Homo sapiens: one gene and its partner. The protein of the gene in region 2 interacts with the protein of the main gene of each other region in a pairwise test. Each region holds a gene or a part of one and is shown on either strand. Other genes may lie near its edges.

Region 1 (3,819 bases), on a different chromosome or scaffold from region 2:
CCTCCCATGTAGCTGGGACTACAGGTGCCTGCCACCACACCCGGCTTATTTTTTTGTATTTTTTTTAGTAGAGACAGGGTTTCACCGTGTTAGCCAGGATGGTCCATCTCCTGACCTCATGATCCGCCCACCTCAGCCTCTCAAAGTGCTGGGATTACAGGCATGAGCCACCACGCCCGGCTAATTTTTTTGTATTTTTTTAGTAGAGACAGGGTTTCACCATGTTAGCCAGGATGGTCTCCATCTCCTGACCTCGTGATCGCCCGCCTCAGCCTCCCAAAGTGCTGGGATTACAGGCGGGAGCCACCACGCCCGGCCTTGTTTTGTTTTATTTCGAGTTGGAGTTCCACTCTGTCACTCAGGCTGGAGTGCAGTGGCACGATCTGGGCTCAAGCTGTTCTCCTGCCTCAGCCTCCTGAGTAGCTGCGATTAGAGGCATACACCGTCACTCCCAACTAATTTTTTTATTAGAGATAGGGTCTCACCATGTTGGCCAGGCTGGTCTTGAACTCCTGACCTCAAGTGATCTGCCTGCCTCAGCCTCCCAAAGTGAATTTTGACTGATTTTAAGATAAATGTTAAAGAGCCAAGCACAATGGCTTATGCCTGTGATCCCAGCACTTTGGGAGACCAAGGCAGGTGGATCTCTGTTCCATTTGCCCTAGGAGTTTGAGACCAGCCTGGGCAACATGGCAAAACCCTGTCTGTATAAAATCAAAAATTAGCCAGGCGAGGTGGCATGCACCTATAGTCCCAGCTACTCAAGAAGCTGAGATGGGAAGATTGCCTGAGCCTGGGAGGTTGAGGCTCCAGTGAGCCGAGATCGCGCCTGGTCAACAGAGTGAGACCCTGTCTCAACAACAATTAAAAAGAATGTTGAAAGCAATGAAACGGTATACTTCAGTTGTCTAAGTCTGTCACGTTGTCTGTAGATTAAGCAGTATACTTCACTTGTCTGTCACATTATCTATAGACTGTAATACACTGATGACTGAATTTATTTACTTAGGTTTTGAAGGAAGGAAACAGAATGTTCTCGAATTAATAGAAACTACAATTTTTTTTTTTTAGAAACTTCAGAAATATGCTTACCCAGAAACTACAAAATTTTTGTGGAAGCGATAGTTTCTAAAATCTTTAGGATCTGTTTTTTGTATTACTTTAATGCAAAGAAATTTCAGAAATTCAAGGTGTTAATAACAATAAGATTTCATTTTTCTCAGATACACCTGTAAGATCGGAATGGAGTGAACTTCAAAGTCAGGAACGATCTGAACAAAAAAAGTCTGAAGTAAGTCCTTTTGGAATTGGAACAGTTATAGCTTAACATTTCTACTCTTTTGTTAACTAATCTTGCAGTTGTTGAAATAGCTGTCATCTTAAGATCGTTAAATATAGTTTGTAATTTTTGATCGGCATTTCTTATACTAAGATTTCAGATGAAAAGCCCATATAAAAGGTAGGTTCTGAAATTTTTTAAAAGGGTAACCTGATCTACATACAACTATCACTTTAAAGTATTGTTTTCTCAAGCTGTTTTTGAAATATGTAAATTATGCTTCAAATAATTTTGAAGGTATGAATGAAATAGGAGTTACTATTTTCAGGGTCCTAATTCTTTCTTACATTTCTAGATGCTTCCCATTATAACACTAGGCACATAGTCGCTTCTTTTGTTTTTTTCTGGCTACCTGGCATTTCTTTGACATTCGAGAAATGTTTTGGCAATTAAATATTTTGAGGGCGTGGCATGGTGGCTCATGTCTGTAATCACAGCACTTTGGGAGGCCAAGCAGAAGGATCACTTGAGCCCAGGAGTTCAAGACCATCCTGGGCAACATGGGGAGACCTTATCTCTACAAAAATTTTTAAAATTAGCCAGGCGTGGTGGCGCATGTCTATGGTCCCAGCTTTTTGGGAGGCTGAGATGGGAGGATTGCTTGGGCCCCAGAGGTCAAGGCTGCAGTGAGCCATGATCACACCACTGCACTCCAGCCTGAGTGACAGAGTGAGACCCTGTCTCAGCAACAACACATTTGTCCATAGGAGATAACATTTTTTATTAACATTAATACTTTTTGTATTTTCTCCCATACTTTAATATCTCTGAAATTTAGCTACATCTTATATTTGATTTTAAGACATGATGTAGTTTAATTGACATATAAAATACAATAATGATATAATTAGTAATAGTGGCTGGCAAAACACAGCTGTATGTTCCTTCATGCAGTAGCCCATGCTTTTCAGTGCTCATCCAGAAACATTTACTCCAAGGAGAAATAGCATAACATTTTAAAATTTTAAGCCTAATTAAAAAACAATTGTTTGCTTTTCCTCTGATGCTGAAAATGATAGGCCTTGATTTCTTGGGATATATACCCATAACAGACCCAGCTTTCTATTATTTGTATATAAAATGAATGTATTGTAATAGGTATTAAATGTCTTCCTCGTAGGGCTTGATAACCTCTGAAAATGAGAAATGTGGTAAGTTGTTAGATTTTTTTTTTCCTTTTTACTGTAGATTTTATTGATTAATTTCTACAAAATAACATGCTTCATAGTTCATGCTATATAGTTATTTCTGTATGTGAAAATGTCTAGGACAACTCTTGTAGAAGCTTAATATTGTACTATAATTCTTCCAAATTAATTATTACCACCAGATAGTAGTATTGATCTGGAAAATCATGGGAGCATTTACTATCAATAATTACAGGCTAATGGGAAAGAGATTTTTTAAAAATATTTTTCTGTTTTTTATTTTCTGTTTTTAAAAACACCTAGAAGTTAGATCCCGACTTAAATAAATGATGGAATTGCTTCTGTAGAAACCTATTGTTTTAGAAATCTTCCTTTTAGTACTTTTTCATTTATTTGTGAAGACCAATAAAATTGTGAAAGAATGAATGAATTTTAGTAGTTAACATCTTTTGTTACTAATCTTAAACACTGGTAATTAAAGAGTAAACTACAATCTAAACAACATAAAACTTTAAAAGTGGAGTTATTAGGCCTGGCGTGGTGGCTCACACCTATAATCCCAGCACTTTGGGAGACCCAGGCAGGCAATCACCTGAGGTCAGGAGTTCGAAACCAGCCTTGAGCAACATGGTGAAACCCCGTCTCTACTAAAAATAAAAAAAATAGCTAGGCGTCATGCCATCTGCCTGTAATCCCAGCTACTAGGGAGACTGAGGCAGGAGAATCCCTTGAACCCCGGAGGCAGAGGTTGCAGTGCGCCGAGATTGCGCCATTGCACTCCAACCCGGGCAACAAGAGGGAAACTCCGTCTCAAAAAAAAAAAAAAAAAAACAAGTAGAGTTATTATTTCAAGGTGCAAATAGTGCATTAATTAACCCTGACCTTGTTGATTTCTTAAAATTTTTTTTTTTTTTTTTTTTTTTTTTTTTGAGACAGAGGTCTTGCTCTGTCGCCCAGGCTGGAGTGCAGTGGCGCGATCTCGGCTCACTGCAAGCTCCACCTCCTGGGTTCACAACATTCTCCTGCCTCAGCCTCCTGAGTAGCTGGGACTACAGGCGCCCGCCACCACGCCTGGCTAATTTTTTTGTATTTTTAGTAGAGACGGGGTTTCACCATGTTAGCCAGGATGATCTCGATATCCTGACCTCATGATCGGCTCGCCTCGGCCTCCCAAAGTGCTGGGATTACAGGCATGAGCCACCGCGCCTGGCCTGACCTTGTTGATTTCTATACAAAGACATTTCAGTTGCAACTATTCCCTTAGAACATAGGCATATAGTATAGCTACCTTAAGGGAATGTAATATGTCAAGACCTAGATTTATGAAGTAAG
Region 2 (3,819 bases):
GGGTATGTCTATATCTTGAACCCCTAGAAACCTGTGAACGCGCCCTTATTTGGAAAAAGGATCTTTGCAAATTTCATTAAGTGAAAGATTTTGAGATGAGATCATCTTGCATTATCCCGGCAGAGCCTAAATCCAATGACAAGTGTCCTTATAAGAGAAACAGGGAGGAAGACTGAGAGAAGAGGAAAAGCCAAGTGAGGATGAAGGGAGAAACTGGAGTGATGCAGCCATGGGCCAGGGATGCCTGGAGCCACCAGAAGCTGGAAGAGACACAGATCAGACTCCCTAGAGCCTTCAGAGGAAGCACAACCCTGCTGACACCTTGATTTCAGACTGTGGCCTTCGGAACCGTGGGATGATCTATTTCTGTTGTTTCAAGCCAACTAGCTTGTAATAATTTGTTATGACAGCCACAGCCAGCAAACTAATACACAACTGTTGGCTTTTTTCTAAACCAAGAACCAGGAGACAGCCCCACCTACAGAACTGACTTTCATTCATCTCATTGTAGCTACAGGATTACAAAAGCATCAAGAATGCTCATTCTTGGGCAAAATAGGGAGACCTTTGTCTCTACAAAAAATCAAAAAATTAGCCAGGCGTGGTGGTGCATGCCTGTAGTCTCAGCTACATGGGAGGCTGAGGTGGGAGGATTGCTTGAGCCCCAGAGTTCAAGGCTGCAGCGAACCAAGATGGCGCCACTGCACTGTAGCCTGGGTGGCAGAGCGAGACCCTGTCTTTCAAAATAAATAAATACTTTTTCAAAAAAATAATGAACACATTTAATTAAAATTAAAATGCTAATCCAAATTAACATGGGTAAAGAAAGCCAAAGAAAAGCTAGAGTCAGGCAAGGAACCAAGGCATGCTTTCTGGAGGATGGTTCAGAACTCCCTTCTCCCGGCCCGGCGCAGTGGCTCACGCCTGTAATCCCAGCACTTTGGGAGGCTGAGGCGGGCGGATCACGAGGTCAGGAGATCGAGACCATCCTGGTGAACACGGTGAAACCCCGTCTCTACCAAAAATATAAAAAAATTAGCCAGGCGGGGTGGCGGGTGCCTGTAGTCCCAGCTACTTGGGAGGCTGAGGCAGGAGAATGGCGTGAACCCGGGAGGCGGAGCTTGCAGTGAGCAGAGATCGCGCCACTGCACTCCAGCCTGGGTGACAGAGCAAGACTCTGTCTCAAAAAAAAAAAAGAACTTCCGTCTCCCATTCTTCCCATCCAGACAGGTTTTCAGGCGGCAGGGATGATATTCAGCCATGATCGTGACGGGCGGTTTAGGGTGAGCTCCCATGTGCCACATCTGTGAATCCATAGCCCACTGCACCCTCTCCCTTGAAGCAGCCCTCACTGGTCCTTCTCCAGATCAATTCTGGGTCTCCAGCAGCCCTACCTTGGAATAGGCCAGATGCCTGAAGGCCTTGCGGGCCTCCAGGGGCTCCAGGAACTCCACGATGGCAGTGATTCCGCCCTCTGGCAGCAGCACGCGGCCCAGGCTGCCAAAATGGCCGAAGGTCTCCTGCAGCTGGGCCGCCAGGGTGCCTGCCGGGAGGTTCTTGACCAGAATCACAGTCTTGCTTCGCTCTGCTGCAGCCTGCAAAGAGGAAATGCACACACATGGGACCACAGGAGGGAGGAGGGTCCCCAGCTGACACCAGCAGGGATCGTGGGGCTCTCCAGACAAGGCTCTCCATTTGGAACCTCAGCAACCAGGCACTTAGGAGGAAGACCCAGGAGGAACGACCCTCTCTGGCATGATGCTCCCTGCAAGGCTGCAAGGCAGCTCTGCAGAGGGGGTAAGGCCTGGGACTCTGAAGCTGGAGCTTCTGGATCAAATCCCAGCCCCTCCTCCACTCCTGAGCAGGGCCGCACTTTCCAAGGCTTCCAGTGGCTGGGGTCTGCATCTCAGTACCAAGGCTTTTTTTCCTGAACTACAGACCGCCCACCTGCTACCACGTGCAGCCAGCAGGACGTGCTGCAGAGCTAACGCCCCCTGGGAGCAGCCCACAGCTCTCAGGAGTTGCTGCACTCCTTGTCCTTGGGTGGGATGAGACTGAGGTATGAGTGCTGCAGGCTTTCCCCTAGGCAGAGCTCCAGGCAGCCACAGGGCAGCGTACTGCAGCAGCACACTCTGCACCCTGGGCTCCTTCCCTTCCCTGCATCCCTTTCTCACCAGAGTTTTCTGCACTGCCCCCAAAACTGTTTGCCCTTGAATCCTTGTCTCAGAATCTGCTTCTGGGAGAACCAAAACTAAAAGACTAAGCTATTCAGCCTTGAGAAATGTACTTAACTGTGCCTCAGCTCCCGCAGCGACAGCAAGGACAGAGCATTTATTTCACAGGATCGCTCCAGGAAAAGTTTTCATTAAATGGGTTAGTAAAAGTACATGTAATATGAGCACTCTGAAAACGTTAGCAATAATTTTATTAAAAAATAATGTTGGAGGAGGATAAAAGAGCCAATAAAATATAATGGAAAAATCTAGGCATATGGCCTATCTGGGAATAAGTCTTAGCTCAGCCGCTAATGTAACCTGAGACCTTGGGTCAATTACCTTGTTTCTGTGGGCCTCAATTTTTCTCATCTGCAAAATGGGCTAACAGTCACACCCATCTTATAGAGGCCACACAAGGTTACTATGAGGATTGAGTGAGGTGAGGGGAGTGAAAACCATCTGCAGGTGGGAAAGGCTGGGCACCTGTGGGCCTTTTAGGTGCAACTCAGGCCGCAGTGTTACAGTTAGAGAGACAGACTCTGGGGCCAGAAGGCCTGTGTTCAAACTCAGCTCCACCATGACTAGCTGTGAAGTGACTTCACCCCTCTGTGACTGTGGTTCCTTCTGTAGGGTGGAAGCACAGTAGAGCTGCTTTCACAGAGTGGCCATGTGAATGAAATGAGCTAATTAAACATGTAAACTTAGAAGAGTGCTTTGGTAAGTCTTAATAAATGTTAGCTATTAGTATATTTATTTTATCCATCTATCTACCCATCCATCCATGCATCATCTGTATTCATCCACCATCCATCCATCCATCCATCCATCCAACCATCAAGCCATCCATTCATCCACCATCCATATTCATCCTCCATCCATCCATCCATCCATCCATCCACCCATCCCCCATACATCTTCATTCATCCATCCTCCTCATCCATCTTGAGGTAAAAATGTGAGGCCTGGGAAGGCTGTTGAAAGGGCTGTTTTGGGAGTCAGAAGCCCTGAGTTTTAGTCCAGGCTCCTCTCACATATAGACTGTTTGACCTTGTAAGTCACCTCCCCACTCTGAGCGTTGGTATCCCAGATTGTAAAATGAAGGGGTCTCATGATGTCTTAGGGGCCCTCTAAGCTGCAGTCATCCATAAATCTAAGACCTGCTACTTGCTGGAGAACAGGCACATGGAGGTGCTGGACTCTTCCCTGCTAGGTTCAAGAAGGGTCAAAGTCCCCGAACAGATAACAGATGCTCTGGGAAGCCACTGGGTAGGGGAGTGAGATGTTGGGGGTGCCGATCTGTGTGGGGGAACTGTGGGGTTGTAGGCAGACCTCTTGTACATGGCTCTGGACAGACAGAATCAGGGTCAGATAGGCCACTTGTCTCAGCCCATGTAACATTTCTTCTTTTCTTTAGAGACAATTTAGAAATCAGTAATAGTCCTTAGAAGGCCAGATCCTTAAATCCATCTGCATCTCCCCTGGAAAGGCCATTCTCGACTCTCCAGTGGCTGCTGGCTGGCTGGCGCCACCGAGAACACCCACCTGGCTGAAGGAATCCAGGCTGACCCCGTTGTCTATGAGAAAACGCCGCACTTCCTGGACG

The links.
Region 1: the proteins of RBM19 (region 2) and PTPN12 interact in a two-hybrid assay, tested with the Homo sapiens proteins (one large-scale study listed by BioGRID and IntAct).

The regions. Positions count from the first base shown.
Region 1 is NC_000007.14:77,634,559-77,638,377, forward strand, and holds part of PTPN12 (tyrosine-protein phosphatase non-receptor type 12), read left to right. Parts: intron 1-1,207; exon of another isoform or gene 1,208-1,223; coding exon 1,224-1,291; intron 1,292-2,459; coding exon 2,460-2,490; intron 2,491-3,819. UniProt on the Homo sapiens protein: Dephosphorylates a range of proteins, and thereby regulates cellular signaling cascades. Dephosphorylates cellular tyrosine kinases, such as ERBB2 and PTK2B/PYK2, and thereby regulates signaling via ERBB2 and PTK2B/PYK2.
Region 2 is NC_000012.12:113,938,566-113,942,384, forward strand, and holds part of RBM19 (probable RNA-binding protein 19), read right to left. Parts: coding exon 3,759-3,819; intron 1,596-3,758; coding exon 1,395-1,595; intron 1-1,394. UniProt on the Homo sapiens protein: Plays a role in embryo pre-implantation development.